Linked DNA regions of Homo sapiens. The protein of the gene in region 2 purifies or fractionates together with the protein of the main gene of each other region. This does not show direct contact. Each region holds a gene or a part of one and is shown on either strand. Other genes may lie near its edges. The genes, in order: DDX46, TCEAL7 and ESF1.

The links.
Region 1: the proteins of TCEAL7 (region 2) and DDX46 purify together in Homo sapiens (affinity purification with mass spectrometry; one large-scale study listed by BioGRID and IntAct). This does not show direct contact.
Region 3: the proteins of TCEAL7 (region 2) and ESF1 purify together in Homo sapiens (affinity purification with mass spectrometry; one large-scale study listed by BioGRID and IntAct). This does not show direct contact.

The regions. Positions count from the first base shown.
Region 1 is NC_000005.10:134,786,209-134,789,864, forward strand, and holds part of DDX46 (probable ATP-dependent RNA helicase DDX46), read left to right. Parts: intron 1-2,304; coding exon 2,305-2,383; intron 2,384-3,007; coding exon of another isoform or gene 3,008-3,060; exon of another isoform or gene 3,061-3,406; intron 3,407-3,656. UniProt on the Homo sapiens protein: Component of the 17S U2 SnRNP complex of the spliceosome, a large ribonucleoprotein complex that removes introns from transcribed pre-mRNAs.
Region 2 is NC_000023.11:103,328,640-103,332,395, forward strand, and holds TCEAL7 (transcription elongation factor A protein-like 7), read left to right. Parts: upstream 1-1,599; 5' UTR 1,600-1,665; intron 1,666-2,283; 5' UTR 2,284-2,401; intron 2,402-2,737; 5' UTR 2,738-2,764; coding exon 2,765-3,067; 3' UTR 3,068-3,687; downstream 3,688-3,756. UniProt on the Homo sapiens protein: Plays a role in the negative regulation of NF-kappa-B signaling at the basal level by modulating transcriptional activity of NF-kappa-B on its target gene promoters.
Region 3 is NC_000020.11:13,716,262-13,718,964, reverse strand, and holds part of ESF1 (ESF1 homolog), read left to right. Parts: coding exon 1-57; intron 58-1,450; coding exon 1,451-1,597; intron 1,598-2,703. UniProt on the Homo sapiens protein: May constitute a novel regulatory system for basal transcription. Negatively regulates ABT1.

The DNA.
Region 1 (3,656 bases), on a different chromosome or scaffold from region 2:
CTTGATTGTGTTCATCATTTCAGAGTGTATATGTATATCAAACATGTTGTACACCTTAAATATATATAATTTTTGTTAATTATGACCCAATATAGTTGTGGCAAAAAAGAACATACTATGTTAATGCTAGATTAGAATTTTTGAATCTTTTTACATAGATTATCCCTCCTCCCTCTTCCCCTGCCTGAGAAAGCAGATTTTTTTTTTCATTTTACATATGAGGAAATATTCAGAAAGATTTATTAAGTTGACCAATTAGGTTAATACGTTCTAGAGTTTGTCCTGGAACCTAGGTCTCTGATCTCTGAGCATTTGTTTCTCTAATCTATGCTGACATCTTTAAAAAGTGATGGTGGCCAGGCACGGTGGCTCATGCCTGTAATCCCAGCGCTTTGAGAGGCCGAAGCGGGTGGATCATGAGGTCAGGAGCTCAAGACCAGCCTAGCCAACATGGCGAGACTCCCCGTCTCTACTGAAAACACAGAAATTAGCCTGGCTTGGTGGCGCCTGCCTGTAATATCAGCTACTCGGTAGGCTGAGGCAGGAGAATCACTTGAACCTGGGAGGCGGAGGTTGCAGTAAGCTGAGATCACGCCACTGCACTCCAGCCTGGGAGACAGAGCAAGACTCCATCTTGGGGGGTGGCGGAAGTGATGGTGATTACTGGGATGCATTAATATCAGAGGTGTTTTGTTGTTGTTGTTGTTGTTGTTTTTTGGTTTTGTTTTATTGGAGACAGCATCTTACTCTGTTGCCCGGGCTGGAGTGCAGTGGTGTGACCTTGGCTCACTGCATCCTTGACCTCCTGGGCTTAAGCCGTCCTCCCTCTTGAGCCTCCTGAGTATCTGGGACCACAGACGCATGCTACCACACCCGGCTAGTTTTTGTATTTTTTTGTAGAGACGAGGTTTTGCCATGTTGCCCAGGCTGGTCTTGAATTCCTGGGCTCAAGCAATCTGCTTGCCTTGGCTTCCCTTTGTAACACCTCCGAAAGGTATAGACGTGAGCCACTGTGACCAGCCCTTCAGCTGTCTTCTAAAGAATGAAATAGTTTTCAGATATTTTGCTTAACTAGAAGAAGGCAAAAAAGTAGGTTCTGTGATTGGATAAGTTTTGGAAATGTTGGAGTATAAAAAGTTAAAACCACTTTCTTTCCTGTAAGACTTCTTTGTTCTTAATAAGCTAATGTATATTGTGTTGCTAGATAAATGGGATAAATTAAGTGACGTTTTCTGAACTTAACTACAAAACTGTTTCTTAGGACTATTGTTACAAGAACACACTTCAAGAATATTTGCTTTTGTTAACTCCAGTGCTATTTTAATTACTTCAAATTACTTCATTTTCTAAGTTTATCTTTATGATTTTTCATGACTGTAGTTTGTAGAAATACACTTACAAAATAACATGGTACATGCCTGCACGTTGTATTTATATAAATGCCAAACAAAAGTTTTATGATGTTAAGGGACTTCTGGTATTTTCCATTCCATTTCATTTAAAAAATGCTGGTTGTGGTTGAACACTATGGCTCATACCTGTAATCATCACAGCATTTTGGGAGGCTGAAATGGAAGAATCACTTGAGTCCAGGAGTTTGTGACCAGCCTGGGCAATGTAGTGAGACCCCATCTCTTAAAACAGTAAATAAATTAGCGAGTGCCTGTAGTCCTAGATACTGGGAGGGTGTGTGGGGTGGTGGGGGGAGGGGCTGAGATGGGAGGGTCACTTGAGCCCAGGATCTAGGCTGCAATGACCTATGATGACACTGCTGCACTGGGCAACAGAGCCTGGGCAACAGAGTGAGACCCTGTCTCAAAAAAAAAAAAAAAAAAAGCTGATTATGACTGTTAAAGTGATTTCATGATTCACTAATGTGGCAACCCTCAATTTGAAAAACACTAGTCTATGTGGTCACTTAGAAATTTCTTTTTCTGAGGCAGGGTCTTGCTCTTGCTCAGGCTGGAGTGCAAGGATGTGATCATAGCTCACTCCAACCTTGAACTCCTGGGCTCAAGAGATTATCACTTTTTTTTTTTAAACTGCTTTCTTAAGTTCATTTCTTGGTTTTGAGGGATAGTGGCAAATCAAATTTGCAGAATTCTCTAGTTCTTATTTGTTTCAAATTTATGGCACTATGTGGTCACGTTGTTGCTATTTCTTTAGTAGTGCCCCGAGATTCAAAATAATTAAGCAGGAAGCTTGGAAGTCTTCTAATTAGACTAGGCAAGAACTAAATGCAGTATTTTTTAGTGTTTAAGTAAGCATTAGTAATAGACTATAAAGTTTCATCTTTTTTATTAGATTGCTGAGCTGAAAAGAGGTGCTGAAATTATTGTTTGCACACCTGGTCGAATGATTGACATGTTAGCCGCTAACAGTGGTAAGTCAGGGGTATTTTTTTGGTGTCTTTTATTTTTGAATTCTTTACTTTTTTTTGTTAAAACAGATGCAAGAAACCAACAAAGGGTTTCTATATTTCTTCTTAAAGCTGCAGTATCTTAAAATTTGTAGCCTGTAGTCCCAGCTACTTGGGAGGCTGAGGCAGGAGAATAGCTTGAACCCGGGAGGCGGAGCTTGCAGTGAGCCAAGATCGCACCACTGTACTCCAGCCTGGGTGACAGAGTAAGACTCCGTCTCAAAAAAAAAAAATAATAATTGTAACAAGTTGATTATTACAAGCATTAATGATATTTTTGCAATTTAAAATTTTTTTTCAGAAGTAACTCCATCTGATCATAACTTGGATTCTTAATCCAGTTTTGGCCTGGCTTTGCTTAGTAAAAGAGTGGGGTAGTAGCTTTTTCTTTATTACAAAATTTAGACTTTTTCTCCACATGAGCTAGTATTTTCTTAGATACTACATAAATTAAGATATTGCAGCTTCAAGAAATTTTATCTTTTGTAAATATTGCATGTTTGTAGCTCAAATGTTATGCTTTGTTAAATTATTCCCTATCAAAACTCTTACTAAACTGTTGACATTATTTAACTTCTGTGGAGAAAGGCCCTTCAAGATTTATAGAACTGGGCTTCCGAGACTTAAACCATCAAAGGTAGGTAATTTAATGCTGTTCCCGACCTTGCAAAACTAATTGGGGCTACAAATGCTAGTGTGGAATACTTAAATATTAGATAGCACTTATTTTGGCACTTTTTATTTTTTGAAGAAAATGCTCTCAGAGGTTTCCATTGCAATATTTAGTGTGTACATAATAGAGTATTAAAAACTGAGTTAGTGCATGTTTCTAGTAGTATTCTGCTTGAATTTCTAATTCTAATTGTACATGAAGTTGGCAAAGTGACATCGAAATTGAGAAGTCATTGTGCTTGTCTAGCATATGGAAAGTTTTGGTTTGAATGCTGATTAAATAATCCCTTTTTTTTTTTCTCAATGCTGCATTGATTAAGTCTCCTCCTGAAATTCATCTTGATTAATTTTACCTTTTTCTCTTATCTGTCATTGTGGTCTATTTTTAAATAACTATTTTATACGTGTTTTTGCCAGGTGATTGATTCAACAGTTGATAGCAATGCTTCTGTTAATATTTTAGAAGGAATTTCCTATGTATGTATTTTGTTTTCACTGGTTAGGAAGCCAGTTGCATTTATTTAAGTCAGTGGGTTCACTTAATAAAATTGGGATTTATATCTTT
Region 2 (3,756 bases):
ATAGATGAAGCACAGAGAAGTTGCAGTATCCAAGTTTTACATTCAAGTTTATACAAAAGCTAAGTAAGTACAATTAATTCAAACTAGGATTTGTCCAATGCCATTCTTCTTACTAATATGCAAAGTCTTCAACACCCGAATCCTTCAGCCATTTTATAACTCTGAGTCTAACCATCTGCATGAAAAGCTGTTCACAGAGGATTCAGGAATTTTTCTCCCCACAAACGAATTTTTTGCCTCTATCACAACTAGTCATTCCTTAATAACTGTGACAATGATGCTCTACTGTTTTTAAGACTTTTTTCTGACCACTGAACTTTTTTCTGGAGTCATTTATATCAAACTGATTAGTGGTAACTTTATATTCATAATGAGCTGCAATCTTCCTAAAAACAACTTATGAGAAGTTTACACATCTCCCTTTCTATTGCATATATTTCAAGCTAACAAATCAAGAGCAAATCTACTTAGACAAGTACCCAAATCCTTAGCAACAAAAAGTTTAGTGTGTTGGGTGGCTAAATGTGACTAATTTTTGTTAGTACTACAAGTAGCTTTCAATACATCAGTATGGCTAAATAAGGTCATGGAAAACATAAATAGGATGGAGATGTCTAGGGAAAATGAAAAACTATTCTTTTCTGAATGAGAGTGTTGAAAAAAGTTGGGATATTAGGGGTACAGTATTGAAGAAAAAAGGGTTATGTGTATGGTATAAACTGGAAGAAAGAGGGCATGATACTGAGCTCAAACTAGTTAAAATTTGTGACTTACAGTTGCGATCTGGAAATCTAAGGGCAAGGTGCTGTAGGATTATGGTCTCAGTGACTCACCTAATGGAAGGACCTCACATGCCCGGGAGCCCCTCAAAAGAGTAGGTTCCAACTGACCTGTACATCTTAAACTTCAAAAAATATGTCTGCCTAAAGGGTCTATATTTATATTATGACTTCAGCAGCAGAAACAGGTGGCTGGCCTTTTTATCCTCCTATCTGGAATCTTTTTCCAAATGTACATATCTTTATCATATTTCTGATTATTAAAAGTATATAATAAGTTTATGGAAAAATTGGAAAAGAATAAGAAATTATCAAAACAAAAGTAAGAAGCACAATCCAAATCATTACCTCCTTTCCTAATTCACCCCATTCCCTCCAATCTGGTTTCAAGGATTGGACTCCAAGGGAAATGATGGCTATTAGTGGCTGAGAGGCGATTGGATGGAGGAGACTGCCACTTTTCTTTTCTTGTAGCTTAGAAAAGGATAAGTAATCCTCCCTCTCAGCACAACCACAAAAAAAGTAACAATGGTTAATATAACTTTGGGAAAATGCAGCCCCTCCCTGGTAATCAGAGAAAGGCAAATTCTGACCACAGGGAGAAGGCGCCACTTTTGACCTCTGGAATTAGCAAAGACAAAAATGAGTGACAGGGCCTGGTGTGGTGTGGGGTGGGAGGTTGGTAAGCCGGTCCACTTCTGCAGCGCTGCTGGTGGGAGGGGAAAGTGGGGACCAGAGATGGGGGATGACATAATCCTCACGTGATCAGGAGCTGACGTGAACCGAAGTCCTTATATTCCCGGGCTTCTTTCTCCTCTGGGTACCAGCTCCTTACTGCCCTGCAGACAAGCGTGCCGTGCGTGCTTGTGGCCAAGGGAAGGAAGAGGTAAATTCCTTAAATCCCAGCAGGTTGGAGTGAAGGAACCACTGGACCCCCGGGGTCAGTAGTGGGTGAATCTAATGACTGGAATAGGTCCAGACTTGCTTTCCCAAAACCGCTGCAAAATCGTCGGAGATAATTGTATCTTTTGCAGGGGGAAGCAAGGGGGTAGGTCGAAATCTTTTGAGAGACACCTAGAGATTTAGTGACAGCTTTGAAATAATCGGCTTCTCTCACCCTGGCATGCTTTCTTTTTATCCTTCTCCTCATCTTTCTCCAATTTTGTTAAGAGAAAATTTTAGGCCTGGGGTATGTGTTGGTGTGTGGAGAAAGGCTGAAATCCCGGGATGGAGACAACAGAAATTTAGAGATCATTTGAAAATAGTTCACCTCACTCAATGCCGGCCTGTGGTGGTGGGGTGGGGCGCGGGACGGGGCGAAGGAGGGAGACGCGGGCCTTGCAAGGCCCAGGCCTGAGGGTGAGGAGTGGGGAGTGGAAACGGAAATCCTGAAGGAAAGGATACAGACAGGAAGGAGGGGCCAGGAGGTAGAAATCCGGGGGGCGATGACGGTGATGATGAGAATCCCAGGTTCAAAATAATAACGTCTGTCTTGTCTCTGGAGCTGGTTGATCCACAGATAGCTCCTTCCTCCCCGCCCCTTCCTTTTTGTTTGGAGGTCCCAGGATCTGTGTTCACAGACATCTGGGGGAAGAAAAGGAGCAGGAAACTACCCCGCACAGGTCAGTATGAGAGAGGCACTTAGACTGAGATCTCTGAGGATAGGAGTCGGGAAGGGGCAAAAGCTAGGCGAAATTTGCGGCTTCGCAGTCCATCTCCTTTTCTGCTCCGCCTCTCCTGCCTATTGGAGAGGCCATTAGCTTTGTCTGCTGGGGAAACGGTGGGTTCCTGAGGTGGGAGGGGAGAAAAGGGGGAGATGAGAGGGTGGAGGGAACTGCCGCAGACTTATGAGGTCTGGACCTGTGGGGCAGAGATGGGAAAGTATCTTGCCTCAGAGAGAAACTGACAATCGTGATTCAAAAGTAATGAAGCAATTTGTCTTTACATTTTCTCCCTAGAGTTAAGCAGGAAACAACAACAACATCATGCAAAAACCCTGCAAAGAAAACGAAGGAAAGCCAAAGTGCAGCGTGCCAAAGAGGGAGGAAAAACGCCCGTATGGAGAATTTGAACGCCAGCAAACAGAAGGGAATTTTAGACAGAGGCTGCTTCAGTCTCTCGAAGAATTTAAAGAGGACATAGACTATAGGCATTTTAAAGATGAAGAAATGACAAGGGAGGGAGATGAGATGGAAAGGTGTTTGGAAGAGATAAGGGGTCTGAGAAAGAAATTTAGGGCTCTGCATTCTAACCATAGGCATTCTCGGGACCGTCCTTATCCCATTTAATTAATTTCTCTGACAATTCAATTATTTTCTGTTATTAATGTTGCCACTGCTTTCTGTTTGTCTGCACTTTCTTGATAAATATTTGCTATCGTTTTACTCCAGTCATTCGATGTTGCTGAGATTTACATATGACTCTTGTCAACATCTCATCTTTTGACCCAATCTTATTCATTTAATAAGAGGTCTCATTCATTTGCATGGAAAAATGCTCATTGTATATTGCAAAGTGAAAATAACGAGTTGCAAAACAGTGTATACATATATGTGTGTATATATGTACACTTTATTTGTACATTTCTATGTGACATAATGCAAAGGAAAGTGTCTGATTTTATTATACACCAAAGGTTAACAGTGAATCTCTGTGTGATCTCTTTTTTTTTCTTTTTGCCTATCTGCATCTTCTCACTTGCCAAAAAATGAATATATGTTTATGTGTGTATATTACTTGTGTCACAAAAAACCCTAAAGTAGACAGTAAAAGAACTTGTCAATCGCCTTTGGAAGGCAATGAAACACTTAATAAACTCTCAATAACAGAAGCGTAAAAATGAAATGTAAACCTCCAATTACCTCTGGATCTCTTAGCCAGAGTAATAAACTGGTAATTATTACAGATACACACGTTTAAGACTCAGTCTTTTCATAGGGAAAATATTTGCCTCACAGGGCTGCTGTGGGAAGGAAAT
Region 3 (2,703 bases), on a different chromosome or scaffold from region 2:
AAATCTGCAAAAGATGGCACATCTCCAGAAGAAGAAATTGAAATAGAAAGACAAAAGGTAAAATACGATTATTGTTACATGCTTAGTGGATAATTCATAGGTACAATTTAAATGAAGTTGTACATGTCACTAATTTTAAAAAACAACTTATTTTAGCAGTGGCATTTATAACTAAATTGTAAGAGACATAATTAAATATTTTAGCAGTGTAGTTTCTAAATACAGTGTTTTTTTTACCAAACATAATTTCTCCAAATTGTACAAAGTTAAAATTAACCTCAAATTCAAGGGTATTTATTTTCTTTTATAAATTAAGAGGGAATTATCTCACTTTTAAAAACACTTACTATACCTGAGGCAGAAAATACCCTTAAAACCTCAAAATAATATTGCCATAAGTTTTAATTCAATCTGAATCTGTCCTGGAATACAGTTTGTGGTTATGGTTTGTCAAATGCAAATTTCTGTTTTTCTTATTGTGAATATGTATATTTAACGTACAAAATTACATTCTTGGAAATGCAGTGAACCTTATGCTTCAGTGACCCCCTATGTCCAGAGTCACACGTAATTTTGGCACAGAGTCATATGTGATTTTGCTGAGGCAGGAATTGAAGGCAGCAGTGCCCCTAGGGCTGATGTTCATGTCACTGTCCAGAAGTGTGCCTGACTGGCCACATAAAGTTATCTAAAGAGCAACAAAGAAAATCAATTTTTATGGAAAATGTCTCTGAAAAGCCAGCTAAAAGTGCCAGTGACAAAAGGAAATTAAGGCAGTCTAAAGTGGTAATATAGGAAGATCCACAAAGGTCGAGAGCATACTCTGTATTTTTACTAGTGTACATGGTTATTTACTTGATTCTTGAGGGTTCTCGTTTAATCCCATGGCTGGTAGAAAATACCCGTTTAGTGTAAAAAGACATTTACTAGATTTCAGAAGCAGATCCTAAGGTCCTACCTTCATAGAAATGTATCAGTATTGAAACAGTAAAGGCCAAAAAAAAAAAAGCAAAAAAAAAACTTACTTGTTAAAAGTTACACATTTAGAAAGTATAATTTGCATCACAAAATAAACATTTGCTAGATTTAGCATCATTGCGCAAAAAGAACAAAGTGAAAATGAGAACTTTTTATTTGAGGGTAGTTGGGGACTCTTGTTCCTGCAGCCTACTAATGAGTCACACTAAGTGAAATGGGGCCTGGTTTTTAACTACAAGGTTTTACCTCTCCTGCTCTCAGTAATGTTGCTTCCAGAGATTCTACCTTATTGCTATACAAAGATCTCTTTGTTTTGGTAATCCACAGTCAGTTTACAGACAACAGGTGGTACCCCAGAGTTCTAGTGATTGAGTCTTCCTTTCTAGAAGAGATATCTTCTGCCCTATACTCCTTTTTGGGGGTGGAAAAAAAAGCACTGTTGTACATTTGAACTTTTTTTTGCTCTCTACAGGCTGAAATGGCTTTGCTTATGATGGATGAGGACGAGGACAGTAAGAAACACTTCAATTACAACAAGATTGTGGAGCACCAGAATCTGAGCAAAAAGAAGAAAAAGCAGCTCATGAAAAAGAAGGAATTAATAGAGGATGACTTTGAGGTAACCATAGACACCAGGCATAGCCTCTTAAAGCTGGAATTGAATCTAAAGTCAGCTCTGCAGATAGAAATTGAGCATAGTCAAAGTTACCCTTGAAAATGTCTTAGGGGCCCGGTGCAGTGGCTCACGCCTATAATCCCAACACTTTTTTGGAGGCCGAGGCATGAGGATCACTTGAGTCCAGGAGTTGGAGACCAGCCTGGGCAACATAGTGGGACCCTCATCTCTATGAAAAATAAAAAAAATTAGCTGGCTGGGCGTGGTGGCTCATGCCTGTAATCTCAGCACTTTGGGAGGCTGATGTGGGCAGATCACGAGGTCAGGAGGTCAAGACCATCCTGGCTAACACGGTGAAACCCCATCTCTACTAAAAATACAAAAAATTAGCCAGGCGTGGTGGCGGGCACCTGTAGTCACAGCTACTCAGGAGGCTGAGGCAGGAGAATGGCGTGAACCCAGGAGGCGGAGCTTGCAGTGAGCCGAGATCTCGCCACTGCACTCCAGCCCAGGTGACAGAGCAAGACTCTGTCTAAAAAAAAAAAAAAAAAAAAAAAAAAAAAAAATCCAGGTATAGTGGCGCACACCTGTAGTCCCAGCTACTCAGGAGGCTGAGGTGGGAGGATCGCTTGAGTCCAGGAGGTCAAGCCTGCAGTGAGCCATGATTGTGGCACTGCACTCCAGCCTGGGCAACAGAACAAGACCCTGTCTCAAAAAAAAAAAAAAAAGAAAAAAAAAGAAAATGTCTTCAGAAAGACTGATGGTGGAGCCAAAGGCTACTGTCTTTTAATCCAGCACAGCCAGTTCATCCTAGGGTGGATGAAATCATTGTTTCTTTGGTTGAGCACCAGGTGAAATAGTTGACTTGTATTTTGGTAGCCATATTGTACCAAAAATGTGTAGTTTTTAATGTTAGAATCACATGTAGTGATCCTCAGACCAGCAAAGGTATGCTTGAATAGCAGGTTCATGTCACAGTGGGTCACACTCACTGTGTGCAGTGGCCAGCGCAGTAAGCCATGTTTTTTCAGTTGCTGTGTTTTTTGTTTCCATTACTCCTTCCTCTTTTTGTTGAGTACATATTCCTAATGGCTGCAGAGTCCCCTAAG